Linked DNA regions of Homo sapiens: all the other regions are linked to region 3. The links come from fine-mapping of genetic effects on gene expression. A gene starts in region 3. Each other region holds a variant in brackets. All regions are shown on one strand. Distances are from middle to middle.

Region 1 (6,477 bases), 83 kb after region 3:
AGTGGGAGGGGAACACTTGCCTCCTCTGGGAGGTGCTGCACAGGCTGGCCACCTGCGCTGGGCCTGCTTGGTCCTCATGGTTAACTGGGCCCCGGGGGTAGGACCACCCCCCTGATAAGTTAAGACAGCCCAGAGATACACAAGGGCTTTTTTTTTTTTTTTTTTTTTTGGAGACAGAGTCTCACTCTGTCCCCCAGGCTGGAGTGCAATGGCGCAATCTCAGCTCACTGTAACCTCCGCCTCCTGGGTTCAAATGATTCTCCTGCCTCAGCCCCCAGGGTAGCTGGGACTACCTCCATCACACCTGGCTAATTTTTGTATTTTTAGTAGAGACGGGGTTTTACCGTGTTGGCCAGGCTGGCCTCAAACTCCGGACCTCAAGGGATCCACCAGCCTTGGCCTCCCAAAGTGTTGGGATTACAGGCGTGAGCCACTGCGCCCAGCCCACGAGGGCTTTTTGGAATTGACTGGCAGGGCAGTGAGGGCCCCCAGGGCAGGCCGGAGAGGCTGACCAGGTAGTGAGTGGAGCTGTTCACAGATGAGGATTTTGAGCCTGTGGTTGGGCTGCATTCCAGAATCCAGCTGTGCTCCCATGACTTCCTTCCCACCTTATGCGCTGTGAGAAGCGGAAAAATACCTGGCTGAGAAACCGAGGGCTCAGGCGATATCCCTGTTTACTCCATCTCTATCATCTTGTCTTGCAACGAGTGACTGACTTAGAAATGTAATCCGGGATGGTCTTGGCTGTCTCCACGCCCTGGAGAGCAACAGGGTCCTGGTGCTGCCTGTTACCCTCGGGGAAAAGTGCAGACCCAAGTAGGTCCAGCTGTGTCCTTGACATCTCCACTTGTCCTGTCCAGGACGCAGTTGCCTAGCCCAGGTCTGGGCTACAGTGGCTTCTCACAGCTCAGTAAATGGCTAGTTTGTCCTTCCAGCCGCTGGAGGCAAAAACCTTGACTCCCCTTTTTTTCTCACATTCCACATTCAGCATGTTGAGAATGCAGGTTGGCCCTTCTTGCAAAACAGATCTTTAAACACAGGATCACTTCTCACCACCCTACCACTGTAGCCTTGGACTGAGCCACAGCTGCCACCACAATGCTGCCGGGCTGTTGCAGGCGCCTCCTGGCTGCTCTGCTGGTCCCTAGTCTGTTGTTTTCACAGGAAGGGTCTGAACACATCGTGCTTCTGCTTACCACAGTCCAGTGGTGCCCCATGTCGGCAGAGTGAAGACGCGGAAGCCCTACAGTGGCTGATGAGGTGCTACATAATTGGGTCCCCATTGCTGTCCTGACCTCAGCACCTGCTCCTCCCCGTTGGTCTCACTCCTGTGTCACTCCTGCCTCTGTCCTCCGCCTTCCGTGGTGTTTCTTTAAATGTTCCAGGCATGCTTCCTCATCAGGGCCTTTGCAGCCCAACTCCCTGTGGGGGCTGAGTAATGGTCCCCTGAAGATGTCTACCTTCTAATCTCTGGAGCCTGTGAATATGTTACCTTCTGTGGCAGATGGGATTTTGCAGTTGTGATTAAGTTGAGAACCGGAGATGGGGAGATAATCCTGGATTATCCACGTGGGCCCAGTGTAAGCCAAGGGTCCTTATGAGAGGGAGGCAGGAGGGCCAGAATCAGTGTTAGGAGATGTGATGTTGGAAGCAAGAGGCTGAGTGACGAGAGGAAGGGGCCGAAAGCCAGGGAAAGTGGGTGGGCTCCAGAAGCTGAGAAAGGCAAAGAAATGGATTCTCTCCTAGAGCCTCCAGGAGGAACCAGCCAGCCCTGCAGACATCTTGACTTTAGCCCTGTGAAACCTGTTTCAGACTTTTGACCTCCAGAACTGTAAGATAATAAATTTTCATTGTTTGAAGCCCGTTAGTGTATGGGAATTTGTTACAGCAGCCTCAGGATATGAATAGACCTCTTTATCTCCTTTCAGTCTCTCACTCACTCTGGCAGGTCCACCCCTTTGCTCTGTTTTTTCTTTTCCCCCCCTCATCATTTATCACCTTCCAGCAAAACTGGATCATTGACCTGTCTGTCTGGCTTGTTGTGGGTTGTGTATCTCCCCTGCTAGAATGTAAGCTCCCTGAGGCATGGATCTTTGTCTTGTTAACTGATGTATCCCAGTGTCGAAACCTGCGTCTGGTGTATAAGAGGTGTTCAAGAAACCTGTGTCGAATAAATAAATGAATGAATATGAATGAATGATTCCTTGGTCTGGAATACCTTCTCTTCCCATTGTCTCTGCCAGCTGCCCTCTAAGTCCACTTCAGACCCACTCCCTACCCGCAAGAGCTCTCCTGTAAGTGACTTCCCTGGCAGGATGCGGCTGGTGCTATCTGCTGGTCACCTTTCCTGAGCACCCAGTGGCTGTGAGCAGCCCGGCCAGTTGCAGAGACCCGCTCAGCCCAGGGCACTCTTCTTCAGCTTGCATTCCCCGGGGTAAGCCCTGCAGCAGCCAGGTACTCTGGAGAGTATTCATTTTGTTCCATGCATTTCTTACAGATGAGCACTGTCAGAGTCTAAGGGACCCAGCTGATCTCTAAACCCAACATTTTTTTTTTTTTGAGGCAAGAGTCTCACTCTGTCCCCTAGGCTGGAGTGCAGTGGTACAATCTCAGCTCACTGCAACCTCCGCCTCCTGGGTTCAAGCAATTCTTCTCCTGCCTCAGCCTCCTGAGTAGCTGGGACCACAGGCACACGCCACCACACTCGGCTAATTTTTGTACTTTTAGTAGAGATGGGGTTTGGCCATGTTGGCCAGGCTGGTCTTGAACTCCTGACTTCAAATGATTCACTTCCCTTGTCTTCCCAAAGTGCTGGGATTACAGTCGTGAGCCACCATGGCCGGCCAACCCAACCTCATTTTGATGATGATCTGGAGAGGTGAGGGGTCCCACCAAGGTGCTGAGCAAATTTCTAGGGCTTCTAAGTCTCAGAAGTCCTGGTTGGATGATCTGTTTGGGAGAGCTCCTTCTCTCCACTGCCACCCCCAGGGACAGCGTGCCTCACTCGTAGAAGGTACTAAGAATTTGCCTGGATATTGGAGCTTTGGAATCTGTCATGGCTGGGGAGGTTGGTGAGTGGGGCACGGTTTTAAGGGAAGGTATAAGGTTCTCCCCAGGGACTAGGGGCGGGGGAGACCAAAGGATTTGTCTTGTTGTTAACAACAGTAGTATGGAGGATGGGGAGTTTGGAAAAAGGAAAGGAAGAAAAGACAAGAAATGGTAATAAGTATGGGCAAGAGTTGTGTGCCCACAATGGACACCTCATGCTAGGGGACCCCCAAGTGTATGGACACTGCCAAGAAGGGGCAAGGAGGGATGAGAGAGGCCTTCTCTGTGCTGAGGTGTGCTTCCCCGGGGCACAGCTGCAGCCTGTAAAGGGTGAACAGTTAGGAACACTTCTTTCTGCTGTCTTCTCTGGGGAGGACACGTGTTGCAACACTTCCTGAGTTGGGGAGGAGGTGACACTTTGCCCCCCACCCTCCTTCAGACTGCTGATGAAGTGTGCTTAGTTATGAACCTACAGCTGT[G/A]TTTTTGCAGCGTTCCCCCCGCCTGTGCACCCGCCAGTCCCACGGGGGGCTCCCCTCCCTCCTTCCGTCCCTGGTCCTTCCCTCTGCTGGCTGGTGACTCACTCAGCTCTTGTGCAACAGCCCAGGCTCTCGCTCAGAGAAGAGCTGTTTTCCTCCATCCCATAAGCCCCCGTCCTAATTTATGTCTTTTCATTTGGGTTAATGCTTTCCACATTTAGGTCTGGAGATTAGCGTGTGGCTCATTGATGCAACCACCAAAACCCCAGTGCCAGCTTGGGTCTGGCACAGAGAGGCAGCCAGCCAGCCAGCCAGACAGACAGACAGACAGAGGACAGCTTGGAGCATGACCCCCAGCCTGTTGGTCTGCAGCTGGCCCAGCCCTGCCAGCCACAGAGGCAGAGCGAGGAGGCAGCCCTGACTCCTGGCTTGCCAGAGAATCATTCTCATGCCAGTTTCCTGTGAAGGACACGCATCTTGGAATGGCGTGAAGAGGAGATTGCCCCAAGCCTGTGACTTCTCATTGAGGAAACTGTGTGTCGGGAAGTGAGAGGCACAAGTTCTAGGGTGTGGAAAAATGCGATCTCTGTGGCTTTCAAAGCTGTCACACAACACAGTGTGTGTGTGTGTGTGTGTGTGTGTGTGTGTGTGTGGTTTTTCTCTTCTCTTTAGAACAATAATATTACCTTTGTTGCTATGGTGTTGTTATGGGGGTGGCTAATTGGACACAGCCCTGATGCTGGCTGGTGTGTGGTGTCCATAGTGATTATCAGACGGCAGCCATGGGACCTGCTTTGATTTTCTTCCCTGGAGTGAGAAGCAGGCAGAGGATCACTCGGTGGCTGTGTATACCCTGCCTTTGGTGGTGGCACCCCAGTCAGAAACGGGACCCTGAAGCTGGGATTTAGGTAAGGGGAGGACCTTTCCAAGGCTTGTTTACAGCTCAGATTTGCAGAGGACCAGGTATTTGGGAACTCCTCTTCTGAAGAACCAGATTGCAGGGCAGGGCACAACGAGGGGCCTGTTGCATCTTGGGAGCACAGGGCTGTGTGCTCTGGTAACCTGGGCCCACTCACCTGGCAGGCACTGGCTTCCTTCCCAGTGAGACTGTAGCATTGACGGAAAAGTGCATGGTGGCTCATGCCTGTAATCTCAGCACTTTAAGAGGCTGAGGCAGGAGGATTTCTTGAGCCCAGGAGTTTGAGATCAGCCTGCGCAACATAGGGAGACCCCCATCTCTACAAAAAATAATGAAAGAAAAAAAAAGATTAGCCAGGCGTGGTGGTGCATGCCTGTAGCCCCAGCTACTCGGGAGGCTGAGGCAGGAAGATCACTTGAGCCCGGGAGGTTGAGGCTGCAGTGAGCTGTGATCACACCACTGCACTCCAGCCTGGGCAAGATAGCAAGACCCTATCTTGAGAAACAAAAGAGACAGAAGTATGTTTGGTCAGTATGTATACCCAAAAGTATATCTGTTAATTTTATACTTATCAAATAGGTAATATATGCTCAGGTCTGATATCTGAAAGGTACAAAAAACGTAGAGTGAAAAGTTGGTCTCCTTCCCATCCCTGTCCTCAACCTATCAGTTCCCTTCCCGAGTGGCAAACAAGTGATCAGTTTCTTGTGGGTACTTCCAGAAGTAGTCCAGGAATTTCCAAATATGTTTCATTTTATTTTCCTTAACCCAGGAAACCGTGTGTCGGGAAGTGAGAGGCACAAGTTGTAGGGGGCGGAAAAATGCGATCTCTGTGGTTTTCTGAACACAGGTATCCCCTCTATACTTCTGCACCTTGCTGGTGCTACTGATGCTTTTTGTTAAATCATATAACATATCTTGGAGTTTAGTCAATAGGAAGAGCTTCCTCCTCCTGTTTAATGCCTGCCCCACTCATTTCACCAATGGGCATAAAGGTTGCTTCTAATCTTTCTCTGTTACCTTTACCTGTTGCTGCTGTGGATAGCCTCGTATATCCATCATTCTGCACGTGGGTGAGGGTCTCTGAAGGGCAAGTTTCTGAGGTTGAAAGGTTGGAACAAAGAATATATGTGTTTGTAGTTTTGACAGAAAGGGCCAGATTGCCTCTAACAAGACTGTTCTAGCTTACACTTCTGCTAGCAGCGAGTAGGAGTGCCTGCTTTCCCATAGCCTTGCCAGCATCGTGCACTTTCAGATTTTTTTTTAATTTCTGCTTGGAAAAGTTTGTCTTTACTTTCTGTTGAATTTCTCTCCCATGGCTCCCCCACTCTATTGCAGCCTCCCATGCAGGCAGTGAGTGGATGGGGTCCCTCTCTGCTTCCCTGGGCCATAGGGAGTGGACCCTCAGAGGACCCTCTGTCTTGCAGATCGTTGGGTGGACTTGGTCTAGCCTCTCTGCAGGCCAGTCGGTTGTTTTACATATAGATCTTAAGGGAAAGAATCCTTTGCAACACTTGAATTTTCTACTTGTGATGACACTACTGGACTCTCTTTTCTCTTTTCTTTTTCTTTTTTTCTTTTCTTTTCTTTCTTTCCTTCCTTCCCTCTTTCTTCCTTTTCTCTCTCTTTTCTTTTCTTTCTTTCTCTTTCTCTCTTTCTTTCTTTCTTTTTTCTTTTCTTTGTTTGTTTTTGAGATGCAGTTTCACTCTCATGGCCCAGGCTGGAGTGCACTGGTATGATCTCAGCTCACCACAACCTCTGCCTCCCAGGTTCAAGCAATTCTCCTGCTGAATTCAGCCTCCTGAGTAGCTGGGATTACAGGCATGTGCCACCATGCCCGGCTAATTTTGTATTTTTAGTAGAGTTGGGGTTTCTCCATGTTGGTCAGGCTGGTCTCGAACTCCTCACCTCAGGTGATCCACCCACCTCAGCCTCTGAAAGTGCTGGGATTACAGGCGTGAGACACCGCGCCCGGCTAGACTCCATTTTCTACATGCTACTCCTATTATCTTTTCCTACTTCCCTCCTCTCTCT
Region 2 (6,477 bases), 120 kb after region 3:
GGGAGAGAGAATCCCCTTAAAAAAGAGCGGGCTGCTATTAAGATATAGGGAAAGGGGCCGGGCACGGGGGCTCACGCCTGTAATCCCAGCATTTTGGGAGGCCGAGGCACGTGGATCACCTGAGGTCAGGAGTTCAAGACCAGCCTGGCCAACATGGTGAAACCCCATCTCTACTAAAAATACAAATATTAGCCAGGTGTGGTGGCAGGTGCCTGTAATCTCAGCTACTTGGGAGGCTGAGGCAGGAGAATCACTTGAACCTGGGAAGCAGAGGTTGCAGTGAGCTGAGATTGCACCATCGCACTCCAGCCTGGGGGACAAGAGCGAGACTTTGTCTCAAAAAAAAAGATAAAGGGAAGGGATACTGGGCAGCTGAAATAACAGGTATCTGCTGTAGTGATCTTGGACAAATCTCACTTGGGGCCTCTTTTCTGAAAAAGAGACGCCAGGACCAGCTGATCTCAACGGACCCTTTGACTTCTAATAGGACCACTATGATTATTAAATAGACAACTCTACCACTGGGAAGAAATGAATTAACATTGTAAACCACCTTAGTTTTTTATTCTCCCCCTAAAAATTCCTGCCCCCACCAATATAGGCCATTGATAACCCATATTTTTAAAGTCTGTTTATATTTATTTTTATTTTTTTGAGATGGAGTCTCGCTCTATTGCCCAGGCTGGAGTGCAGTGGCATGATCTTGCCTCACTGCAAATTCCACCACCCAGGTTTAAGCAATCCTCATGCCGCAGCCTCCCTGTGAGAGCAGCAGGAGGCAGCCAATGCCTAGGTAGGCAGGGGCAGGTCCCTGTGAAACCTCACCTCCAGGCCGAAGACAGCTTAAATCCTGAAAGCCAAGCTACCATTTAAATCCTTGGACCAGACTGAGAACTTGTCTTCCTGTTTGGTGTGCTTTCCTCTGATTGATCCCTACCCTTCACCTATTTTATGTATACCTACCCTTTCCTAATTGGTTTTCTGTACTGCCAGGCCCACTTCTGCGTGGTGTCTTTGCTTTAACCTTTTTTGCATACTCACAAACCAATCAGCATGCACTCCCCATTCTGAGTCCATAAAAGGCCCTGGACCCAGCCACATGGGGGACTTTCCTGCCTTCAGGTAGGGGGACCACCCCTGTGTCCCCTCTGTATTTAAAGCTGTTTCATCATTCAATAAAATTCTTCTCTGTCCTCCTCACACTTCAATGTTCAGTGCATCCTCATTCTTCTTGGATGTGGGACAAGAACTTGGGAATCAGTGCACAAGCCAGACTTGGCCTGGGAAGGCCAACTGGGCAGGGCACCTCCTGCGGCAGATAGCATGCCCTGGGCAAGGCCTCTGGCATCGCCAGCCAGAAGTCCCTGACTGGCAAAGGGACCGAGAAAAATCCTGCATCACCGAGTCACTGGGATTACAGGCGTGCACCACCACACCCAACTAATTTTTGTATTTTTAGTAGAGACAGGGTTTTACCATGTTGGCCACGCTGGTCTTGATCTCCTGACCTCAAGTGATCCACCCATCTCAGCCTCCCAAGTGCTGGGATTACAGGCATGAGCCATCACACCTGGCCTAAAGTCTGTTTAATTTTTAATAAAATATTTAAGTCTACAGAAAATTACAGAGATGTTAACAAATGTATCTGCCATTCGTATTTTTAAAATCAACTTTACTGAGCTATAATTTCTCATGAAATTTATTACATGCGTACAGGCCAATGAGTTGACAAATGTATACACCCTTGCAACCACTACTTGAATTAGTCAGTGTGTAAGACATCTTCCCAGAAAGCTCTCCTTTGCCCCTTTGCAGTCAGTTTCTCTCCTCTGTACCCACTCATCTCTCCAGGTCACTTCTGAATCTGATTTCTATCCTCTAGGTTAGTTTTGTTTGTTCTAGAGTTTCACAGAAATGTGTCATGCAGTATGTACTCTTGAATGTGGCTTCTTTTGCACAGGATAATGTCTGACATTCATCCTCATTGTTGTACCAATGGTTCACCCCTTTTTATTGCTAATGAGAATTCCATTAGTTGAATTTACTGCAATTTGCTTATCCTTTTGTCAATTGATGGACATTTAGGTTGCTTCCATGATTTAGCTATTATGAATAAATCTGCTGTGAACATTTGTGTATAGGTTTTTCGGACACATTTTCACTTTTCTGGCATAAGTACGTAGGAGTGAAATTGCTGGATCATATGGTAAGCATGCATTTAACTTTATAAGAAATGGCAAAACTATTTTCCGAAGTCACTGCTTCAATTTCCTCATCACAGCAGCGTATGAGCTTCTGTTGTTCTACCTCCTTGCCAGCATTAACAAAAATTCTTTTAGCCATTCTAGGGAGTATGATGTAGTTTCCCATGGTGCTTTTATCTTGTATTTTCCTGAAGGTTGATGATGCTGAACATTTTTCATGTGCTTATTACCATCTCTGGATTTGACAAGTATTAACATTGGCCACATGTCAGTCAGAAATAACACATTATTTGACATTAAAAATCCTGTGTGTTCTTCCAATTCCTTTCCCTTCTTTCCTTCTCTTCCTGGAGGCAACCACTGTTCTGGGGTTGGTATGTGTTTCCCATGAGCATGTTTAAAATCTTTATTAACGTGTGTATATCCAAAATACTGTTTAGCAATGTCTTGTTTTGAAACTTACATGAGATGTGCCATACGATATTTATACCTTGGTAATTTACTTTTTTCACACAATGTGTTTTTGAGTTTTTTTCGTGTTGGTGCATGTAGAGCTAGTTCATCTTAACTGCTGCGTACTGTTCTAGCATGTGCATGGGCCACCTTTATCTCCATTGGTGGACACTTTAGGTCATTCTAAGCAATGGTGTAATGCTTATCCTTATGCCTGTCCCCTCGTGTACCGGCCTGGGTATTTCTTGGGTCCATATACCTAGAAGGAAAATATCTGGGTCTGAGAATGTACATCTGGACTTTCCTAAATAGTGTCAAATTGTTTTTCTGAGAGGTTTTGCAAATGCAGACTGCCACCCACAGAGTATCAGAATTTCCATTTGCCTTGCCAACACATCAGACTTCTTATTTTTGCCATCCGAGGGTGTGAAATACCACACCTTGGATTTAACTTGCATTTGCATTTCCTTCATTGCTAGTCAGGTCGTGTCTGTTTTCAAATGTTTATTTACCATTTGAATTTCCTCTCTTGTGGGTTTCCTGTGCATTCTCTGCTCATTTTTCTATTTCGCAGTCTTTCAGTCATTGCTTTACCGCTTCATTTTCT[A/G]ATGATGTATTTTGTCATGCAAAACTTTTTTGTTGCAATCTAGTCAAATTTATTAATCGATTACTTTAGGGATTTTGCTTTTTATGCCTCATTTAAGAACTCTTGGCTGGGCACAGTGGCTCACACCTGTAATCCCAGCACTTTGGGAGGCCGAGGCGGGTGGATCACAAGGTCAGGAGTTCGAGACCAGCCTGACCAACATGGTGAAACCCCGTCTCTACAAAAAAATACAAAAATTAGCTGGGTGTGGTGGCACATGCCTGTAATCCCAGCTACTCAGGAGGCTGAGGCAGGAGAATCGCTTGAACCTGGGAGGGGAAGGTTTCAGTGAGCTGAGATCGCGCCATCGCACTCCAGCCTAGGCAACAAGAGCGAGACTCCGTCTCAAGAAAAAAAAAACTCTTATGGTGAGGTCATATATGGTCTTAACTTTTCTGAAAGTTTTAAAGATTTTTGTTTGATGTTGAGATCTTTGATCCATTTGTAATTTCCTTTTATTGTTTGTTATAAGGCAAGAGCCCAATTGTACTCTTTTTCTGAGGAGCCTGTCATCTTGTTATTACTTATTTTAAAAAATCCCTCTATTCTCACCTCGCTGATTTGATGACCACCTTTGCTGTATGTTTTTATAAATGTGTGTTCTGTTGCTGGGGTCTTTCTTCTGGTTTCATTGGACTATTTGTCTATCTGTTCACTATTTTAATTGTAACTTTGCAAGAAGTTTTACTATCTGATGGAATAAGTCCTCATTCTTCTTCAAAATTGTCTTGGATGTTCTTGGCCCTTGACTATTTCCTGTGAATTCTAGGATTACCTCCTTGAGTTCTATGAACAACTATTGCATTAAAATGGCACTACGTTTTGAGATTAATTTGAGAAGAAAGATCTCCTTGGTAATATTGGGCTTCCTATCTAGAAACAAGTTGTATATTCCCATTGATCTAGATCTTCTTTATTGTATCTCAGTGTTACTGGAAAGGGGTCCTGAACCAGACCCCAAGACAGCGTTCTTGGATCTTATGCAAGAAAGAATTTGGGGAGAGTTCATGGAGTAAAGCTAAAGCAAGTTTATTAAGAAAGTAAAGGAATGAAAGAATGGCTACTTCATAGGTAGAGCAGCTCTGAGGGCTGCTGGTTGCCTATTTTTATGGTTATTTCTTGATTATATGCCAAATAAGGGGTGGATTATTCATGAATTTTCCAGGAAAGGTGGCAGGGGCAGGGGGCAGTTCCTGGAACTGAGGGCTCCTCCCCTTTATAGACCATATAGGGTAACTTCCTGGCATCTGTCAACTGTCATGGTGCTGGTGGGAATGTCTCTTAGCATGCTAATACATTATAATTAGCGTATAATGAGCAGCGAGGATGACCAGAGGTCAGTTTTGTTGCCATCTTGGTTTTGGTGGGTTTTGGCCGGCTTCTTTGGCACAGCCTGTTCTACCAACAAGGTCTTTATGACCTGTATCTTGTGGCCACCTCCTATCTCATCCTGTGACTTAGAATGCCAAATCTACTAGGAGTGCAGCCCAGTAGGTCTCAGACTTATCTTTTACCCAGCCTCTATACAAGATGGAGTCACTCTGGTTCAAACACCTCCAAAGTCAGTACATTACATTGTCTCCATATAAGTCTTTTACTCTTTAGTTATATTTACTCATAGCTCACTTATAGTTTTGTTGCCATTGTGCGTGGTGTATTTTTTTTCTTTAAATTTGATGTTGTCAATGAAAAGAGTGAAACTCTGTCGAATATTTGAAGAGTTTTATTCTGAGCTAAATATGAGTGACCATGACCGTGTCACAGTCCTCAGGAGGTCCTGAGAACATGTGGCCAAGGTGGTCAGGGCGCCGCTTAGTTTTTATACATTTTAGGGAGATATGATCAGTCAAATACATTTAAGATATACATTGGTTTGGTCCAGAAAGGTGGGACAGCTTGAAGCTGGGGTTTCCAGGTTATAGGTAGATCTAAAATTTTTCTAATTGGCAGTTGATTGAAAGACTTATCAATAGAAAGGAATGTTGCAATAAGAGACCAAAGTTTCATCATTTAGATGAAGCCTCCAGGTAGCAGGCTTCAGAGAGAATAGGTTGTAAGTATTTCTTATCAGACATAAGGTCTGTGTTGAAGTTAATGCTGGAGGGTTGTAATGAAGCATGTCTGATCCCCATTTCCCTTCATGATCTGAACCAGTCTTTCAGGTTAAACTTTAGAGTATCCTGGCCAAGGAGGATGTCCATTCAGATAGTTGGAAGGACTTAGAATTTTATTTTCGGTTTACAGTGTTTATGTTTATTTTTATCAAAGTAATAGAGTTTTAAAAGAGCATTCTCCTACCATACTCCACCCCAAATGCTTCTCAGAGTCCACCACTTGTAACAATGGGGCTTTATCTCCATTTGGGGTTTTTGTTATTTTAGAGAGAAGGGTTTGCTGTGTCACCCAGCCAGGAGTCCAGTGGTGTGATCATAGCTCACTGCATCCTCTGCTTTGGTCTGTCGCTCTTCAAGTCTGAACAGTTGTCATCTTGATCTTTCTTCACCATCATCTGATTACTTTCCTTTCTTTCTCTTCTTTCTCTGCTCAAGCGATCTTCCCACCTCAGCTTCCCAAGTAGCTGGGACTACAGGAATGCACCATCACACCTGGCTAATTAAAAAAATTTTTTTTTGTAGAGATAGAGGTTTTGCTATGTGGCCCAGGCTGGTCTTGAACTCCTGGCCTCAAGCAGTCCTCCCGCCTTGGCCTCCCGAAGCACTGGGATTATAGGCATGAGCTGCTGCACCTGGCCCTTTTTCTAAATGATATGTTTATACTGTTGTATATCCCCCTACCTACCAATTTTACACACTGTCTATTGAACTTCTTATTGCAGAAGATTAGACCTGGCTTTTCCACCAACACTTTACTTTTTCCTTTCCTCCATATATAACCTCTTCCCTCACCTCCCACAATGGTGGTCCTATGGTGATATCAGGGTCTGGTGTTTATATTATTATGCCAGTGTAAATTACAACTGAGCTACTGATTGCCTTCTACTTCTTTGGTGGAACAACAACAAGAAAGCAAATAAATAAAAACAAAAGCAATTGGTTTTATTTACTTGGTTTTCTCTGTCCCTTGCACCAATTCTTCTCTCTTCACTAGCCCTTTAAAAACTTCCACAGGCTAGGTGCGGTGACTCATGCCTGTAATCCCACCACTTTGGGAGGC
Region 3 (6,477 bases):
TCAGCAACAGGAGTTCCACTAACTGCTAGTCCAGTCTTATTTCTATGAAGACTGACATTGGGTATCACCAGAGAGTCTTTTCTTTTCTTTTCTTTTCTTTTTTCTGAGATGGAGTCTTGCTCTGTCGCCAGGCTGGAGTACAGTGGCGTGATCTCGGCTCACTGCAACCTCCACCTTCCAGGTTCAAGCGATTCTCCTGCCTCAGCCTCCTGAGTAGCTGGGATTACAGGCACGCGGCACCACACCTAGCTAATTTTTGTATTTTTAGTAAAGATGGGGTTTCACCATGTTGGCCAGACTGGTCTCAATCTGCTGGCCTCGTGATCCGCCCGCCTTGGCCTCCCAAAGTGTGGGGATTACAGGCATAAGCTCTCACAGGCTGTGCCCAGCCTAGAGAACTTTCTCTTAAGATGCTATTTGTGGGTGAGTCACTAGGATACCTGCTTTCTGACTGGCAGGGGGGACGACAGAAAGCAACACCAGTGTACAATAAGCTAGAATTGAGTTCAAAGCTGATTCTGCTGTTGACCAGCTGTATGATGGTGAGCAAGTCACACTCTTTGAGCCCAGTTTCTTTACCTGAAAACTGGGACAACAGTCACCTCATCAGCTCGTAGGATTACAGGAATGAAATGAATTAAGTGGAGAAATTAACAGCTATTATCATTTTTGGTTGCTGCAGGAATGTTTGAGGTGGGTCAGGTAGAACTCAAGTGTATGGCATGCTGTGTAGGCTGCGATTTCTCAAGTCCAAACTGGATCACAGTTCCTCACGGGCATGCAGAGAATTAGGGTTGCAGGATGGCTGGAAATCAGTTGTCCTACCTTGATTCAGGCCACATCATCAGGAATGAAGCCTCAGAACAGCCTGCTGGAAGTCACATATTTTCCTGATACAAGGAATTGTATCTCTTTTAAAACTTCATTGGGCCAGCTATTTTTAATGACTGTTTTTGATATGAAGTTATGCAGCTCCGCTTTAAGGGACTCTTAGTGGTGACTGTGGTCAAGAGTTTGTTTCTTTATATTTCCGGCCAAGCGAATGTTCAAGACTTTGCAATTGATGGACTATTACAAATAATCTGCTTGTGTCACTTTGCCCATGGCCAGAGAACAGATGGAGGCTGCTCAGGTGAGATGGCTTAGCTGCAGACTAGGGCTCAGTAGTGACTCTTAAAACCTGGGCATGAGTATTTTTAAAAAGTTGCATAATGACTGTAATGTGCAGCCAGGATTGAGAACCATTGAACTAGGTGAAAGGCTCTGTGCCAGGGTCTGATTCAAAGCATAGACAGGTGCGCAAGATCTTCAGGCTCTTGGAGCCCGGCCTGACTGGTTTTGTAATGGATATCTAGGCAGTCATAGTAAGAGGTGAAGCTAGAGGAGGCGTTGTGGAGGGCCTGAAATGTACAGGCAGAGAAGTTTGTACCAAATTTAAAAGGCAATAGGGAGCCACAGAAGGTGACTGGGGGAGGGGGGAAGGAGTAGACAGAGGTATACAGGCGTATTAAAGGGTCCAGCTTTTTTTTTTTTTGAGACGGAGTTTCACCCTTGTTACCCAGGCTGGAATGCAGTGGTATGATCTCCGCCCACTGCAACTTCCACCTCCCGGGTTCAAGCCATTCTCCTGCCTCAGCCTCCTGAGTAGCTGGGATTACAGGCACCCGCCACCACGCCCGGCTAATTTTTGTATTTTTAGTGGAGATGGGGTTTCACCTTGTTGGCCAGGCTGGTCTTGAACTCCTGACCTCAAGTGAGCCATTCGCCTCAGCCTCCCAAAGTGCTGGGATTACAGGCGTGAGCCACCGCGCCTGGCCGAGTCCAGCTATTTACAGGCTAAAAAATGTACTTTATTTTATTTCTTTAAAATTTTTTATGGAGTAGACTAGCAAAGAAACCAAGCTTTCTTTTACTTCTGTACGGTCAGTTCAAGGTCAACATTCTGCAGCACTCAGGTTCACTGGTCCCTGGAGAGCAGGGACTGGCCCAAATGATGTTTGTAGTACCTGGCACATCGCATGGAACATGGCAGCCTCCTGGTAATGTTTGTTGACTGACTACATGAGTGTAGACTCTTTAGCCAACCCATCTCGATTTCGGGAGGGCTGGTACCCTGGGCCGGCCTTCCCTCTGCAAGTAAAAGCATTGGTGCTGTTCCTCTCACCGTTCGCCTTTCCTCCATTTATCCCCATCGACTGTTTCCAATTCTATCAACTCCGACCCCGTCTTCTCTCCATTCCGTCCCTCCAGCGTGCCACGCTGCCACCAGGCTGCTGGGCTCAGGCGCCAGGCTTCAAACCTGTCTTTCACCCATTGTTCAGTTTCCGGTGAGACAAGTTCAACCCCAGGTTCAACCACTACAATGACAACCACAAACGATCCCTCGCAGACACCTCGAAGAAGCCGCCCGCACGCCACGGGCCGCCAGGCCTACAAAGCAGGCACAGAACAGAGGGGCGTTTCCATTCCCGCGGTCCCCGGCGGTGGGGGCGCGAGTGGGAGCCCCTCTCCCCAGTGACAGGCCCCTCTGCGAGGGAGCGCGCAGCCCTCCGCGGGCGTGGCCGCCCTGGCCCCGCCCCGGCCCGCCCCCTCGCCAGTGAGCTAACCCCCGCCCGGCCACCCGGCCGCCAGCTCCTCTCCACGGCCGCCCGCCGCGGAGTCCTGCCGCGGGGGATGCTCCGGGTCCCACCTCCCGGGGGAGCTGCGCATTTCCGCGCGCCAGGGCGGCCCCGGCCCCGGTCCCGGCCCCGGCCCCGGCCAGCCCTCGCGGCGGCAGCCCGCGTTCCGCGTTCCCGGGAAGTTGTCTCCGGAGCCCGCGGCGCCTGGGTCTCCTCCCCCTGAGCCCCGCCCCCCAGCCCAGAGCTAGGATCCGCGAGCTGCCCGGCCCGGGGGCGTCGCCGCTCGCTCTGCGAAGCCAACGAGTCTCTGCTTCCCGGCGCGGAGCGCGCGTCCCCCGCCTGCCTGAGGACCCCCGCGCACCCCAGAGACGGCGCGCGCCCAGAGCGCGGGAGCCCGGAGCGCCGGGCGCCTGGGACCCCGCGGAGCCGCTGCCCAGCCCGTGGGGCTCGGCGGGAATGCAGGCTGCGCTGTGAACCCGGGCGCCAAGGCCATGTCCGGCGCTCGCTGCCGGACCCTGTACCCCTTCTCCGGGGAGCGGCACGGCCAGGGGCTGCGCTTCGCCGCGGGCGAGCTGATCACGCTGCTGCAGGTCCCGGACGGCGGCTGGTGGGAAGGCGAGAAGGAGGACGGGCTCCGTGGCTGGTTCCCGGCGAGCTACGTGCAGTTGCTGGAGGTAAGGGGCGAGGGCCGGGGCTGTAGGAGCCGGGGCTGCGGTCCTCGGTGCGCTCGCGTACCTGTTGCCCGTTCCGGGGATGCCGCAGCGTCCCGGTCGGAGGGGCGCCCCGGGGGGCAGCCCTTGCCGGCGCTACCTGTAGCTCCACGCTCCTGGGGGGCAGCGACGGCAGCGGGCGCCCCTCGGGGCGTGGGCAACGCGGACTCGCGGGGAGCTTCCACCTTGCGCCGGGCCTCCGGAGCACACCGTGGCTGCTCTGAGGAAGCGAGAACTTGTTGCCTGTGTGAGTTAAGGAGCAGGCGGGAGCGTTCCCGGCAGTGGCAGGGGCCGGTGAAGGGTCTGGCGGTCTTGGGAAGAGGCACGGAGGATCAGGGGTGCGAGAAAGTGGCACCGACTCGGTCCCGCAGCCCCGCGTCTCCACCCCGGAGTCTAGAGCCTGATGACCCGTGGACGGTCGTGCTGCCTTGGGTCAGGCTGCCTGGCCGCCTCGGGACCACCCACTTGCTGGTCAGCCGAGCCTGCTGGCCACCAGCCCGAGCCCCCTCAGCAGGCTTGATCCTGGGGTGCCGTAGCACCCCCCGCCACTGCCTGCTCCCCTGGTCCAGCTCCCCGAGGCTAAGGCTCAGAACCCGAAAGTGGCTTGTTCCTGGGGTTCTGGCCTGGCCCCAGGGCTGCACAGGACCTGCTGAGGCAAGGCGGCTGGCTGTTTATTGTCTATGTGACAGGCTGTCCTCTAATCACTGAGCTCGCAGTCACAGCCTGAGTGAGACCCGAAGTTTCTAAAGTCCTTTGTGTGTGGGGGGGTGACCTTCCAGGACATCCCCTTTACTAGAAGCCCGCCTGCCCCCAGGATTCTTGTAAAGACTAAATTAACAGTTACCTTCAATGGTGTCAGTATTCCTAAACATTCTGGTAAAACACTGCCGGAAGAAATCATGGAGGCTGAATTTATTTATTATTTAACTCTTGACCTACTTCACAGAGAAAGTAGCAAATTTTGACTGAGAATGCTCAGTGCAATTCATCGGGGGCGGGGGGAAGAAAGAAAGAAGTGAAATGGTTACAGGGTGAGTCCGCCTGAGGATGTATCCTGTGGCAACATTGTCAGCAAGAGCCTGGCCTTATAAAAGTACATTAGATTGCTTTCAGGTCCAGAGAACAACAAAATCTCTCCTAAAGGCATCAGTAGCATTTGAGCAAAGTTTAGGGGCTGCTGGAATGAGCTTTCATGGGCTGTCAGCAGAGTATGTTGCAGGAACCCTCTTGGTTCTGTATCTGGAGAATCCGGAGATACCCTACTTGTAGGAGAGGCTCAGGTGTGCCCTGCCCTGGCTTTTCCAGTTCCTTTCCCGAGATTCGGATGTAAAAGAAAGCGAACGTATTGCTTCTTACATGAGAAGCAAGGGGCCTCCTTGTTTCTAGCTTGAAGCCCTGGGATAGATACGTATTTTGGGAGTTCTTCGGGTGGTCACCCTTTTCCAGGAAATTCTGATGTGGAAATTTGGCTGATGGATGTCTGTCCGGTGAGGAGCATCCCTGGCTGGACTGAGCCAGCTGTGTTTTGTGTAGGGGTGAGGCTGGGTAGGTGTTAGTTAGCAAGAGTGGAGTGCTGCTTTTTCTTCCGGGAAAGGGACGATGGACCAGGGCCAGGGGACAAGCGGAATTAACAACTGGGACAGTTTTGGGTGTGTCTGTCCCATCCTCTGGCATATACAAAGGTAAGAGATCTCTGGTGTCTCAGGGCCTCTCAGACCATTCCTGACTAGTAACTTGCAACAGAAGCATCCATCTGCGTGAGCAATACTTCTGAGCACCTGCTTGGCACAGTGTGTGCACGTTATCACCAGTTCCCTGACAGCTCTGTGAAGGGTGAGGTACTTCCCCCATTTTATAGACAAGCAAGCTGAATATGAGAGAGGCGAAGTCAGCTCCCCAACTAGTAATGCTTGCGTGTTTTGTTAGCAGCTCAGATGACTGAGTATCACCCCCTGCGCCTGTGCCTTTTTTAAACATGATAGCCCGGGCTCAACTATGCCAAACAGCGTGTGAGCGAAGGGTCTGGATCCATGGGGAAAAGGGGCATGCGCAGCCCCTGAGGTCAGCATGTTGGTGACAGCACCGCGAAGGGGAGGCTGAACCTCTAGGGCTAAAACGAGGACAGCTGCATCCAGGAGCAACTTGGAGGATCTTCCCTGCTAACCCCAAAGTGTGACTTTACTCAGAACCAGCTGGGGGTCTTCCCACAGTGGGCCCGAGTCCTGTATCCTAAGTACTGGGTGGGACTCTTCTCAGGGCCAAAGCAGATGCAGTTTCAACAGGGGGGCATGTGGGTCAGGTGCTTGGCATCTGGGAACCTCCTACATGAGCAAGTTGGACCTCAAGGCTGAAGGCTAGGTAGAGATAGAGGACATGCAAGCAGAGTTGCTTGGGATGGGGTGAGTCCTGAAGGGCAGACTCAGAGAATGCAGAGGTCCCCAGGCTGGTGGGTAGACTGGCCAGCATCTGGACTCATGAGACTAGAGAGGGGGCCCATAGATACTGGAGATGGCGAACCTCATGAGATGTCAGCCAATGTGGTGCTGTCACTCAGCTTGCTTGGGAGCATGGAGTTCAGAAGGCCAGGGCAGCTGTTGGAGAAACAAGTACAGACAGATGGACTGTACTAGCCTCCTGGCCTAGGGATGGGATTGTGGGTACACAGATGAATATGGCATCTCTAATGTGCTCCCTACTCCAGCGGAACTTTCACCCTGATAGAAAGAGTGATACTAGGAAACCCCATCTTGGTGGAGGGGAGGGAGGCACTGAATACTGTGTGCACACTGGATACTTCCCAAGGAGATCTTCCTTGTTCAGATGAAGCAAGGGGAACCGAGAGACCCAGCCTTTGCAGGAAGCATACACGGGGGAGGGGAGTTGGGAGCTAACTCCAAGAGAGTCACCAGATCTGACCCAGTGGCCAGCTAGCCCTTGGGAGGAGGCCAGCTTGGAGGAGGTCTTGGTTTTTGGGGCAATCTCTTTGGTCAAGACTCCAAGGAAATGGTATAGCACATACTTGGCTTCCAGAGAGCAGCTTCCAGGAAAACCTCAGCACAGGCAGGGAAGTGTAGAGGTCTCTGGTAGGCCCAAGGACTCTGGCCACAAGGGTTCTTCCTACTCGGGGTGGTGCAGCTCTTCAAAGGATG
Region 4 (6,477 bases), 180 kb after region 3:
GATGGGACTGTGGCTGCCTCGGGAGATGGAGGCAGAGTGCGGCCCTGCAGGAGGGAGATGTGGAGACCATCTTTGCCACATCAGCCACATTAGGAGATGGGCCTGGTGGCCCCAGTGCCCTCCTCCCCACCTCTTTCAGCATCTCATGGCCCTTCACGGCTCAGTATCAGGGTGCCTCCCACCTTCTGTAAGGTCCTGAATTTCCTCGTTGCGGGAGACCTCGTGGTCATCAGTGCCTTGCGGAGAAGGGACGGCATCATTATTGCTCTTTCCTGGGTGGGACACTGAGGTTCACAGGTTGGGTCCACTGGCTCTCCAGCTCCTGTAAGGAGTGGTCTCCTCACTGCCCAGCCCTCTCACCAGAACGCACTGGCCAGCTCTCAGGCTGTTAACCTCCCCAGCAGGTGTTTGCCGTTCAAGTCGGGTAGTATTGGAAACAGAAACCTCAGAGAAGTGACTGTTGATGCTGACATTTCAGACAGAGGGATGGTGAGGCTAGGGTGGAGGTCCGTATCGCCGTAGACGGACTGTGTGAAGCCCTTCCAGTGGAAAACCCCATTCATTGCGCATCCCTCAGGACAGGCGCTGCCCTAGGTGCTGAGTTACGTATTGTTACCCTCTCCGTCGTCTTCCACAACTGGGCTCATATTATCACCCTTCGTTTCACAGATTCGAGAATAGCCTGGTGAGTCAGTAGCCTGTGGTCACATGGCTGTCAAGCGGTCCAGGCAGGATTGGCACTGAAGGCTGTTTGAGCCTGAGGGCTGTTTTCGCTGTGCCTGTGGGTTCCTGTCTCCTGCACCCCTTTTCTGACCATGTCAATATTTGATCCTTCCTATTTCCTCCCAAGTTATTTGGATAAGTACCAATATGGCTTTCCCATGTTTGATTGAAGGAGAAACTAGAATATTTCACTCAAGGGGAGGACACCTGGCATCTTGCCCCTCTGGTTCTAGAATCTCTTTCATCAAACACTCATGCCTGTAGTTGTATTTTTTTGTTCTTTGTTTTGAGACAGGGTCTCACTCTGTCACCCAGGCTGGAGTGCAGTGGTGCGATCACAGCTCACTGCAACAACCTCCTAGGCTCAGGCAATCCTTCCACCTCAGCCTCCTAAGTAGCTGGGACCACAGGCGTATGCCACCACACCCGGCTAATTTTAAAAATTATTTGCAGACGGAGTCTTCCTATGTTGCCCAGGCTGGTCTCAAACTCCTGGGCTCAAGCCATTCTTCCACCTCGGCCTCCCAAAGTGCTAGGATTACAAGCGTGAGACATTGCACCTGGCCCTAACCCTCAGTTTTAATCCCCTGACCCCCCACCCATGCCGACTTTATTTCTAATCCTATTGGACAGAATGTTCATCTCCTGTGCATGGGATACTTCTCTTTCTCTCAACATGCACGCGCGCATGCACACGCACACACACGCACACATGCACGTTGTTATAATCCTATTTGTCTTGCATATATTTTGGCTATCTTCCAATCCTGGAGAGTCCAAAGCAGTGAGAGGGCCCAGGTAAACCTGCCCAGATGTGGGCTTGTGCTTACTGGACATGCTGGTGAGACAGCAACCTGCGACCCTGGTGGGATGCCACACCGTGTTGATCCTGGCTGCTGTCCACCTCACTGTCTCCTGCTGTCTTAGAAGACAGTCTTCCATACGGAATCAAACGGGCACTGCAGGTTAGCAGGTGTAGGAGATGGAGCGTCCAGGGCATAGGGGAAAGCTTTTAATTAAGTTGTGAAAATGCATTGTGAAACTTACACCGCAGCTACGCAGAGGGCAGAAGGGAGGCTGTGTTTACTCAAAGTCCCCGAGCAGCTCAGATTTACTCGTTCCCTCCAATGACATGCAGGGCACTACGGGAAGCCACGGCACGTGGTTTTGCAACCTTCACAAAGCGTGAGAGTAGCCTGGGAGCTGTGTGTCTCTGCTGCTCTCTTTCATTCTGTTATCTTGTTTTCCTAAGCGGGGGTCACCAGGGACCACCACTATGGGCACAGCTGGGGGATACTGAGGACATTTGGGAGCCGATTACCTTTACTGTTTGTGAACAGTCCCCTGGCTTTGCTGAGAAATTCATGGCTACTCTCTTCGTATGGCTACAATTCTGATTTTAATCAATTTACTTCAAAAGGCACAGCAATCTTACGGGCTAATTTGGACTCTCTGTCCTAATTTTAAAATGTTCTTTAGCTAACAACTTTTATTTCTGTGTTTATGGGAGAAAATTTAGGGGGAACAGATATGTAGAAAGGAGAGTATAATAATTGCCTGTAATCCCAGCACCCAGGGATCGTGGCTGTTTTTTGTTTGTTTGTTTTTATATTTTTGTTTGTTTGTTTTGAGATGGACTCTCACTCTGTCACCCAGGCTGGAGTGCAGTGGTGCGATCTCTGCTCACTGCAACCTCCGCCTCCTAGGTTCAAGCAATTCTCTTGCCTCAGCCTCCCGAGTAGCTAGGACTACAGGCGCACACCACCACGCCTAGCTAATTTTTTGTATTTTTAGTAGAGGTGGGGTTTCACCGTGTTGCCCAGGCTGGTCGCGAACTCCTGAGCTTAGGCAATCCGCCCGCCTCGGCCTCCCAAAGTGCTGGGATTACAGACGTGAGCCACTGCGCCCGGCCATGGTTGTTTTTTTTTTAGCATCTGTCTACTAGATATCTAGTTTCTTTGTATGTCATATACATTTTTCTCTGATTTGTTTTTTAACGAAAAGTAATTCTATACATGGTTAAAAGAATTAATTGCACATAAATGCATACAATGGGAAGTCAGCGTCTGCTCTGTCTCCGAGTCCTCGTTCTTTTTGCCAGAGTGATCTGGACCCTTGGCGAGAGAAGCTCCATCCAGCTCTTC[A/G]TGGATTCTCAGCATTATTATAGAATGTTTTGCATCTGGCTGTGGGATGACTTGCATTAATTACTTCTGCTAGGTTTGCACAGCAAGCCTGGGGCCTTGTCTGCTGCTGTGCTTCGTGGTCTGGGAATTTCAGGCTTCAGATTTCACAATGGGAGGTGGTGGAGTGACAGGGCCCCCTTGCAAGCTCAGCACCCCGTGAGTGATTTTCTAGGGGGCCGTGGAGAAAGTCTAGCTCCATTAGCTGAATGGCATTTTCCTCTCTGCTCCCAGAGGAGCTGTCCTCTGTGCAGGGGCTCTGAATGCTCAGGTGCTTCTCACTGCTCATGCTCACGCAACCCCGGAGGTCACGTGTGTGCTGCCTCTGACCTCAGGGGTTTATGGGCCGCAGACTTCCCAATGTCACGCTACTGTAGGGTGAATTCATCAGCCTTTGCCTTCCTGGTTTAAAAACTCTTGCAAAAATGCCAAATGGGTGTGACCTTTTCTTTCTTCTCCAACAGAAGCCTGGAATGGTCCCCCCTCCGCCGGGAGAAGAAAGCCAGACGGTCATCCTTCCACCTGGCTGGCAGAGCTACCTGTCGCCTCAGGGCCGGCGGTACTATGTCAACACGACCACCAATGGTGAGTCCCGCTCGGGGGAGAATCCTGCACCAACCCCCTGGCATTCTGGCTCTCTAGAGGGGCACGTTTTTTCTCCCTTCTTCGCCTCTCTGTTTGGGGGTTTTTTCTTCTTAAGTCTATGCTCAGGGGCTACAGTAAAGTCTTACTCCTCCCACTGTGCTGGGTGGTAGGGGTGCAAGTCTGGGTCTGTAGTTCTGGGAGTATCTTGGAAGGAAGGCTGCCCTTTATGGTTTGAGTCTTCCTTGGACCCTGACGTCCACCCTGGGTATCTGTGTTAAACCCAACCTGTTCGTCTGGGGCTGGGTTTTCTGAAGGGTGTCTCAAAAGGTTCTATGGTCAACAGCTGGCTTGAATAAAATGAACGAGGCAAAGTCACTGCATGATGTCTTGGAATTTTGAAGGTTTTAATGATCTTGAAGCTTCAATACAGGGGTTGCAAATGCGAGGTTTCCCTAATTTCACTACAACGTCATCTTTTTCCTTAAGTATCTCACTGGCTGGCATTTCTCCAGATGTTTTTTGGGAAATGCCGGGGGTGCTTATGGGTTATTTATCCCATCAAATAGTACAGGTTCCATGTGCATCTGAGTTGAATAGGACCACACCTCAATGACCCCAATAATTAGGGACCTCCCAGGCCTTCAAATGACCCCAGGATCCCCAGAAGTTTGCTGTGGATGGTTTATAAAAGGGGATGCACCACGTGGCAGGTTCTGTAACAAGGTGAGCAAAGGGCACTGTTGCAGGCTGTGGTCTTGGGCAGGGCAGGACAGGGTAAACCAGCTGAACAGAGCTGTGTCTTGACCTCCGTGACTCCCCAGAGAAATTGCCATGAGAGAACTGAGAGGATTTAAACCAAGGAAAGTTAGATTTAGTGGGAATCACAGACATGCGTTCCAAGGCAAAAGATGAAAATCGTACCCAAGTCCACTGCTGGCTCAGCCTTGGCCTCTCACTCCTCTGTGCCTGCCTGACTACATGACCACCCCTTCCCACCTGGGGGTATCGTTACTACAGCTGATGTTTATAAGCCTGCACCAGGAGGGGGTCCTAGTGACAGGGGAGCCAGCTACTGTTTAGCAGAGACACAAAGAAGGCAGCTGGTTTATTCGTATCCCCTGGCAACCTGACCTTCCACAGGCTCAAGAGGGGTGTTCTAGCGCAAGAGGTAATGAAGTTTCTAGGAAAAGGGAAGTAGGACTATTTCTGACCGTTCTAATCTTACACTTCCTCAAAACAAACACATGAACAGCTTTGCACTGTTACCGGAGACTTGAAATTTCAGAGGAGAGTGTGTCTATGTATGCAACACCCATCTGCCAAACACAGAATTTGGACCGTAGGATCATGAGATCATCAATTATTTGGGACAACATTGGATCCAAATTATTGGAAGGTCAGGTTGCTAGGGGATATGAATAATTTGGATCCGTTATTGTCCCAAATAAGCTACTCTATTGCAAAGGGGCATGGGGGGAAATGGCTTTCTGAATTTCAGCATCTTTATCTTTTTTTAAGTTAGAGACTAGTTTGTTTTCACGGTAAAAAATTCAGTAAGTACAAAATGATTTCAAATAAAAAATAATCCCCGGTCTCACCTTTTAAACATATGTATACTTATTCTTTTAAAATAAATTGGAAAATATTGTCTATGTTGTCCTTTAAGTTACTTTGACAGTGTATGTGGACATCTTTCTATACTTTGTACATTTCAGTCTAACCCATTCTTTTAAACAGCTGTGTAGTAATCCATCGCATGGGTATGCTATTAATTTCACCTGCACTCTATTAATTTAAGTCATATTTTATATCAATAGACAGTGTCTGGCAGCTTTTTTCTGGGACTCAGACTTTAGCAGATGCCACTGGTGACAGCTTTCTTATGGGTCCTGAGATATTGTGATCCCACAGAGGCTCCAGGCCAGGGGTCAGTGAACTTTTTCTGTAAAGGGCCAAGTAGTCAGTATGTAGGCTTTGAGGGTCACATGGTCTCCATCCCAGCCACTCAGCTTTACTGTTTCAGCATGAAAGCAGCCCTGGATGATAGGTAAACAAATGAGTGTAGCTGTGTTCCAATAAGACTTTATCTATGGATCCGAAAATAGGAATTTCAGATGACTTGTGTGTGTTATAAAATATCATCGTTCTGGCCAGGCATGGTGGCTCATGCCTGTAATCCCAGCACTTTGGGAGGCCGAGGCAGGTGGATCACTTGAGGTCAGGAGTTCCAGACAAGCCTGACCAACATGGTGAAACCCCGTCTCTACTAAAAATATCAAAATTATCCGGGTGTGGTGGCGGGCGCCTGTAGTCCCAGCTACCCGGGAGGCTGAGGCAGGAGAATCGCTTGAACGCGTGAGGTGGAAGTTGCAGTGAGCCGAGATCACGCCATTGCACTCCAGCCTGGTGACAGAGCAAGACTCCGTCTGTCTCAAGGAAAAAAAAAAAAAAAAGTGGAAGATGATTTTCGTTGGCAAGTTCACTGGGCCATATGATAGTTGGTTTGACCAGTTGGTCCCTTGGACCATAGCTGCTGGTCCCTGCTTCAGGCTGTCTGTTGGCTCCACAAGGACTTGTCCTATTTGCCCTTCCTCTCTTTATTTATTTATTTATTTATTTATTTATTTATTTATTTATTTATTTTTTTAGACAGGGTCTCACTCTGTTGCCCAGGCTAGAGTACAGTGGCACAATCATGGCTCACTGCAGCCTCAACCTCCTGGGCTCAAACACTCCTCCCATCTCAGCCCCCTGAGTAGCTGGGATTGCAGGCATGTGTCATCACGCCCGGCTGATTTCTTTATTTTTTTATATTTTTTATTTATTTGAGACAGGGTCTCACTCTGTTGCCCAGGCTAGAGTGCAGTGGCACGATCATGGCTCACTGCAGCGTTAACTTCCTGGGCTTAAGTGACCCTCCCACCTCAGCCTCCTGAGTAGCTGGGATTACAGGCATGTGCCACCACACCTGGCTTTTTGTATTATTATT
Region 5 (6,477 bases), 90 kb after region 3:
TTTAATAGAGACGGGGTTTCACTGTGTTATCCAACATTGTCTCAATCTCCTTACCCATCATCCGCCCACCTCGGCCTCCCAAAGTTGTGGGATTACAGGCGTGAGCCATTGCGCCTGGCCATTTCTGTATTTTTAGTAGAGACGGGGTTTCACCATGTTGACCAGGCTGGTCTCGAACTCCTGACCTCAAAGGATCCTCCCATCTCAGCCTCCCAAACTGCTAGGATTACAGGTGCCAGCCAAGACACCCGGCCCCCTTAAGGACTTTTGATATCCATAGATGTACACAGCAGTTACTGACCTACAAGTTGTGGACACCAAAGCAAACTAGCCCTGTCTAAATAGAGCATCTTGTGTTATTTTACTTTTTAATCGACGCGTAATGTTTTACATATTTATGGGGTAGATGTGATATTTGGTTGCATGTATAGAATGTATAATAATTGATAAGTCAGGGTATTTGGGGTATCCATAACCTTAGCGTCAGTCATTGCTGTGTGTTGGGAACAAACATTCTTCTAGCTGTTTCAAAATGTGTGATATATTGTTGCTAACTATAATCCCTCTGCTCTGCTATCCAACTTTAGAACTTGTATCTTCTGGCTGGGCGCAGTGGCTCATGCCTGTAATCCCAGCACTTTGGGAGGCTGAGGCGGGCAGATCACTTGAGGTCAGGAGTTCGAGACCAGCCTGACCAATATGGTGAAACACCGTCTCTACTAAAAATACAAAAATCAGCCAGACGTGGTGACATGCACCTGTAGTCCCAACTACTTGGGAGGCTGAGGCTTAGACAGGAGAATTGGTTGAACCCGGGAGACGGAGGTTGCCGTGAGCCAAGATTGCGCCATTGCACTTCAGCCTGGGTGTCACAGCGAGACTCCGTCTTAAAAAAAAAGAAAAGAACTTATATCTTCTGTCTAACTGTATGTTTGTACCCCTTAACCAAACTCTCTTCATCCCCCCTCTTTCCCACACACCCTTCCTAGCCTCTAGTTAACTATCTACTCTCATCTCCACGAGAGCAACTTTTTTAGCTCCTACATATCAGTGAGAACACTGATCTTTGTCTTTCTATGCCTGGCTTATTTAACTTAACATAATAACCTCCAGTTCCGTTCATGTTGCTGCTAATGACATGATTTCTTTCTTTTTCATGCTGAATAGAATTCCACGGTGTATATATACCGCATTTTTTTATCCACTTGTCCATTGATGGACACTTAGGTTGATTCCATAATTTTGCTATTGTGAATCATGCTGCAGTAAACGTGTGAGTACAGGTATCTCTTTGATATCTTTTTTTTTTTTTTTTTTTTGAGACGGAGCCTTGCTGTGTCGCCCAGGCTGAAGTGCAATGGCACAATCTCGGCTCACTGCAACCTCCACCTCCCGGGTTCAAGTGATTCTCCTGCCTCATCCTCCCGAATAGCTGGGATTACAGGCGCCCACCACCACGCCCAGCTGATTTTTGTATTTTTAGTACAGAGGGGGTTTTACCACGTTGGCCAGGCTGGTCTCAAACTCCTGACCTCATGATCCACCCGCCTCTGCCTCCCAAAGTGCTGGGATTACAGGCGTGTACCACCGCGCCTGGCCCTGTTTTTGTATTTTTAAGTAGAGACGGAGTTTTGCTATGTTGGCCAGGCTGGTCTTGAACTCCTGATCTCAGGTGATCCACCTGCCTTGGCCTCCCAAAGTGTTGGAATTACAGGCGTGAGCCACTGCTCCTGGCCTGATGTCTTTTGATATCCTGATTTCTTTTTGTTTGGATAAATACCCAGCAGTGGGATTGCTGGATGGTATGGTTGTTCTATTTTTAGTTTTCTGAGAAGTCTCTGTACTGGTTTCCCCAGTGGCTGTACCAATTTGCATTCCCACCAGTAGTGTACAAGAGATCCCAT[C/T]TTTCCTCATCCTTGGCAGTATCTGTTATTTTTTATCTTTTTAATGATATTTTTTATCTTTTTAATGATAGCTGTTCTAACGGCTGTCATTAGCAGCAACATGAATGGAACTGGAGGTTATTATGTTACCTTAAGTTAAATAAGCCAGGCATACCCGTTCTAACTCTGGCGTAAGATGATAGCTCGTTGTGGTTTTAATTTGAATTTCCCTGGTGATTAGTGATGTTGGGTATTTTTTTATATGCCTGTTAGCAATTTGTATGTCTTCTGTTGAGAATGTCTATTCATGCCCTTTGCCTACTTTTTAATGGTTATTTTATTTTTATTTATTTTTATTTTTTTAAATTTTTTTTGCTGTTGAGTTCCTTGTATATTCTGGCTATTAGTCCCTCATCAGATAAATAGTTTTCAAATATTCTCTCCCATTCAATAGATTGTCTTTCCACTTTGTTGACTGTTTCCTTTGCTTTGTAAAACCTTTTTAGTTTAATATGGGCCCATTTGTCTATTTTTGGTTTTGTTGTCTGTGCTTTTGAGGTCTTAACTGTAAAATCTTTGCCTAGACCAATGTCCTGAAGTGTTCTTTCTAGTAGTTTTATAGTTTCGAGCCTTAGTTTAAGTCTTTAATCCATCTTGAGTTGATTTTTGTATATGGTGAGAGATAGGGGTCCAGTTTTATTCCTCTACGTATGGATATCCAGTTTCCTCAACACCCCTGATTGAAGAGACTGTCCTTTCCTCAATGTGTATTCTTGGTGCTTTTGTTGAAACTCAGTTGGCTGTAAATACATGGATTTATTTCTGGATTCTCTATTCTGTTCCATTGGTCTACGTGCCTGTTTTTATATGAACGTCATGCTATCTGGTTACTCTGCAGTGCAATTTTTAAATATCTGAGCTAAATACAAAGACAGATCCTCCAAAATCTGAAACTTTTTCAGGACTATATGATGCTCAAAGAAAATGCTCACTGGGGCATGCATTAAATAGAAAATCACAGTGCATGGTAGACACACTTGACAGCAATAAGTTAAGCATACCCTGAGAACGACCCTGTGTGGTAGATGCACCAGAATGTGTGTGTGGATTTCCATGCTAAAGAATCAGGCAGTGGCCAACTCAGAGATTCATTCCTTACCTATGAGAAACATCTGAGCCCTTGGCCCGTCCAGTGGAACACAGGCCATATGGAGGACCAAGGCCCTTTCTTTTGGGTTAAATGAAGGTTGCCAGGTGGAGGTTGTTAGGGAGAGGATGCAAAGCAAAAATGCTCTATAAACTGCATGCTTCAGGCAAGTGCTTGCAGTTCTCCTGCCTAGCTGGCCACGCTGGGCCATGTGGTTCTCCAGCCCAGCCCGCCACTGGACTGTGGTACAGTGATTCTCTTGCCCAGACCCCCTCTGGACTATGGTAAGGTGGTTCCCCTGCCAAGCCCTCCACTGGACTGTGGTAAAGTGATTCTCTTGCCCAGTCCCCCACTGGGACTGTGTGTAAGGTGGTTCTCCTGCCCAGCTCCCACTGGACTGTGTGTAAGGCGGTTTCCCTAACCAGCCCACCACCACTGGACTGTGTAAGGCAGTTCCCCTGCCCAGTCCCCTACTGGACTGTGTGTAAGGTGGTTCTCCTACCCAGTCCCCTACTGGACTGTGTGTAAGGCGGTTCTCCTGCCCAGCCCCTCACTGGACTGTGTGTAAGGCGGTTTCCCTAACCAGCTCACCACCAGTGGACTGTGTGTAAGGTGGTTCCCCTGCTCAGCCTGCCACCACTGGACTGTGTGTAAGGTAGTTCTCCTGCCCAGCCCACCACCACTGGACTGTGTAAGGCGGTTCTCCTGCCCAGCCCCCCACTGGACTGTGTGTAAGGCGGTTTCCCTAACCAGCTCACCACCACTGGACTGTGTGTAAGGTGGTTCCCCTGCTCAGCCTGCCACTGGACTATGTGTAAGGTAGTTCTCCTGCCCAGCCCGCCACCACTGGACTGTGTGTAAGGCAGTTCTCCTGCCCAGCCCGCCACCACTGGACTGTATATAAGCTACTTCTCCTTCCCAGCCTGCCACCACTGGACCACTCTGTATGTAAGTTTCCAGCTGATAAAACCCTGTGTCTCATTGGCTGGCTCTGTGTCTCGTCTTTGGCCTCTTGAACCTGGGGCCGTTCCTATAAAGGTTAATGGAGGCCCAGCAAGACAGACAAAGTAGAACTTCACCTTGTAGTGTTATGTAAGAGGAAGTGTGTTAGTTTCCCATTGCTGCTGTAACGAATGCCACAAATGCAGTGACTTAAAATGCATTTATTTACTCATAGTTCTAAGGATCCAAAGTCTGAAATGAGTTTTACAAGGCTAAAAATTAAGGTGTCGGCAGGGCTGGTCCTTCTGGAAGCTCCAAGGAGAATCTGTTCCTTCCTGTTTTCATCCTCTTGAACTCCTTCCTTGGCGCCTGTTTCCACCTTGGTGTAAGGAACCACCTTACCACAGTCCAGTGGGACTGTGGCATCAGCCTCTTTCTTCTTTGACCTTGTCTTCCTCTTAGACCCTGTGATTGCATTTAGAACCTACCCAGATAATCCAGAATAACTCCCCCACCTCAAAATCCTTAAGTCAGTCATGCCCTACAAAGTCCCTTTTGCCATATAAGGTAACATTCACAGGTTCTGGTGATTAAGATATTAATATATTTGGGGGGGGGGGCACTTTCAAGCCTACCACAGCGGGTATCTTTTAATAATTGAAGAAGAGCAGGTTTGTGTGAGAGGACGTTATTCGCCAAGTCGGTCACTCCCCAGGAGTTCTGAGTTGCTGGAATTGGTTAAGTGATCTTTAACTAGAGGCTGGGAAGGGTGTGTGGGTGGGAGCGAGGATGAAGAGAGGTTGAGCTATTCATGTTGAAGGTCTAATGCTCTAAAGATGCAAATCTCAAATCTCCTAAGGAAGGTGGAAAAAGTACAGAGATTCAGACTCTATCCTGCTTCCGTGAGCCTGGACCTGTGTGTTCTTCATTAGCTCTCCCGGTGATTCTGATCCTCAGCAAAGTTTGAGACTGTTGAATTTTAGACATGGTCTTGGGGATTATCTGTGTGCCTGCACATGGGATGTGAGACTTCTTGAGTAAGAGCCAAAGCTGGGCTGCAGACAGGTGCTGGAGAAGATCAGAGGAGGGGCCGGTGTCTGCGGAGGAGCCGCCACCCGAGCCACACCTGGAAGGTAAGAGAAGGTGTGGCCTTCCCTGAGAAGCAGGGCAGGTGCTCCAAGCAGAGGGAGAGGCCTTACCAGCAGCACCGAGGTAGGAATACGCATGGCACTTTTGGGGATGTGGAGGCTATTTGGGACCAGAAGATGGAGGAACCGGGAGTTGATATGACAAGAGGAATGTTAGTAGGAGTAACGTGCTAATGTTTGCAGGGTTGACTGGAGGGCAGAGGTAGGATTCTGTTTATAGTACTGCCCAGGAGGAGAGGATAAAGGCCCCGCCTGGGTGGTGGCAGGGATAATGATGAGAAGGTGATGGTTGTGAGAGACTCGAGAGGAAATACGAACATGGCAAGGTCTGGCAGTCCACTAACACTTACTGAGCAGAGTCATCGGGCAGATGCAGGAGGAGGAGCTGGAATGCAGTGGTGAGTAAGACTACCCAGGTCCCTGATCTCACGAGTATACTTTGGGGTGGAGAGGTGGGGTAGAGTTGGGGAATAAGCTGACAGACGCAAACAAGAAAGGCATGAGCTAGTGATACGTGCTCTGCAGTTACACGGGCTCATGCGATTGGGAGGAAGTGGGTGGCTTCTTTGGATTGGGAGCTTAGGGAAGGCCTCTCTGGAGCGGTGACGCTTAAACTGTTGTCTGGATGACAAGAAGCAGCTGGCCACAGGGAGGGGAAGGGGAACAGCATTCCAGGCAGAGGTGACAGCAAGTGCAAAAGTGTCATGCAAGATCAGACCTGCCTCATCCTGGGAATGCTAGAACAGCACAGTCCAATAGAAATTTCTGCAGGGACAGGGATGCTCTAGGCCTGTACCATCTAACATGGTAGCCACTAGTCACATGGGACCGCTGAGCACTTGCAAAATGGCTAGTGAGACCAAGGAACTGAATTTTATTTGAGTTTGAATAAGAGTCAAAGCTGGGCTGCAGGCAGGTGCTGGAGAAGATCAGAGGAGGGGCCGGTGTTTGTGGAGGAGCCACCACCTGAGCCACACCACACCTGGAAGGCAAGAGAAGGTGTGGCTTCCCCCTAAAAGCAGGGCAGGTGCTCCAAGCAGAGGGAGACGCCTTACCAACGGCGTCGGGTAGGAATACGCATGGCATGTTTGCATTCTATTTGAGTTTCAATTAATTTAATTTTAACTTTAAATAGCCGTATGTGGCCAGAGTCTCCTGCATTGGACAGCACAGAGCTAGAAGGTCAGGGTGGCTGGAGGGGAAGAGCAGAAAACAGTGTAAGGTGAGGTAGTCAGAGGCAGGCTTTATTGCTTTATGAATTAGGGTAAATGGTTTGGGTTGGTTTTTCTAGGAGTAGTGCAAAGCCTTGGGATGATTTTAGTTACAAGGCTGACATAATTTGATGGATGTTTTATAA

What was found.
Region 1: its variant is fine-mapped to the expression of GAS7 in whole blood (TOPMed, PIP above 0.99). The same link has a PIP of 0.9 or more in lung.
Region 2: its variant is fine-mapped to the expression of GAS7 in whole blood (TOPMed, PIP 0.97).
Region 4: its variant is fine-mapped to the expression of GAS7 in whole blood (TOPMed, PIP above 0.99).
Region 5: its variant is fine-mapped to the expression of GAS7 in whole blood (INTERVAL, PIP 0.91).

What each region holds. Positions count from the first base shown.
Region 1 is chr17:10,112,397-10,118,873 of GRCh38, reverse strand. The region is part of intron 1 of GAS7 (growth arrest specific 7); the gene reads left to right. Among named protein-coding and RNA genes, the nearest start is that of GAS7, 83 kb to the left of the region's middle. RefSeq lists enhancers at 1-16, 547-1,076, 1,077-1,606 and a silencer at 3,561-3,620. The variant G/A (reference allele first, on the strand shown) is at 3,528.
Region 2 is chr17:10,078,345-10,084,821 of GRCh38, reverse strand. All of the region lies in intron 1 of GAS7 (growth arrest specific 7), which reads left to right. Among named protein-coding and RNA genes, the nearest start is that of GAS7, 120 kb to the left of the region's middle. The variant A/G (reference allele first, on the strand shown) is at 3,265.
Region 3 is chr17:10,195,023-10,201,499 of GRCh38, reverse strand. It overlaps GAS7 (growth arrest specific 7), which reads left to right and starts at 2,894. Exons shown (of 14, transcript NM_201433.2): 1 at 2,894-3,292. The coding sequence starts at 3,110.
Region 4 is chr17:10,016,788-10,023,264 of GRCh38, reverse strand. GAS7 (growth arrest specific 7) reads left to right here. Exons shown (of 14, transcript NM_201433.2): 2 at 3,368-3,488. Among named protein-coding and RNA genes, the nearest start is that of RCVRN, 110 kb to the right of the region's middle. The variant A/G (reference allele first, on the strand shown) is at 2,868.
Region 5 is chr17:10,104,896-10,111,372 of GRCh38, reverse strand. All of the region lies in intron 1 of GAS7 (growth arrest specific 7), which reads left to right. Among named protein-coding and RNA genes, the nearest start is that of GAS7, 90 kb to the left of the region's middle. RefSeq lists an enhancer at 3,602-4,143. The variant C/T (reference allele first, on the strand shown) is at 1,905.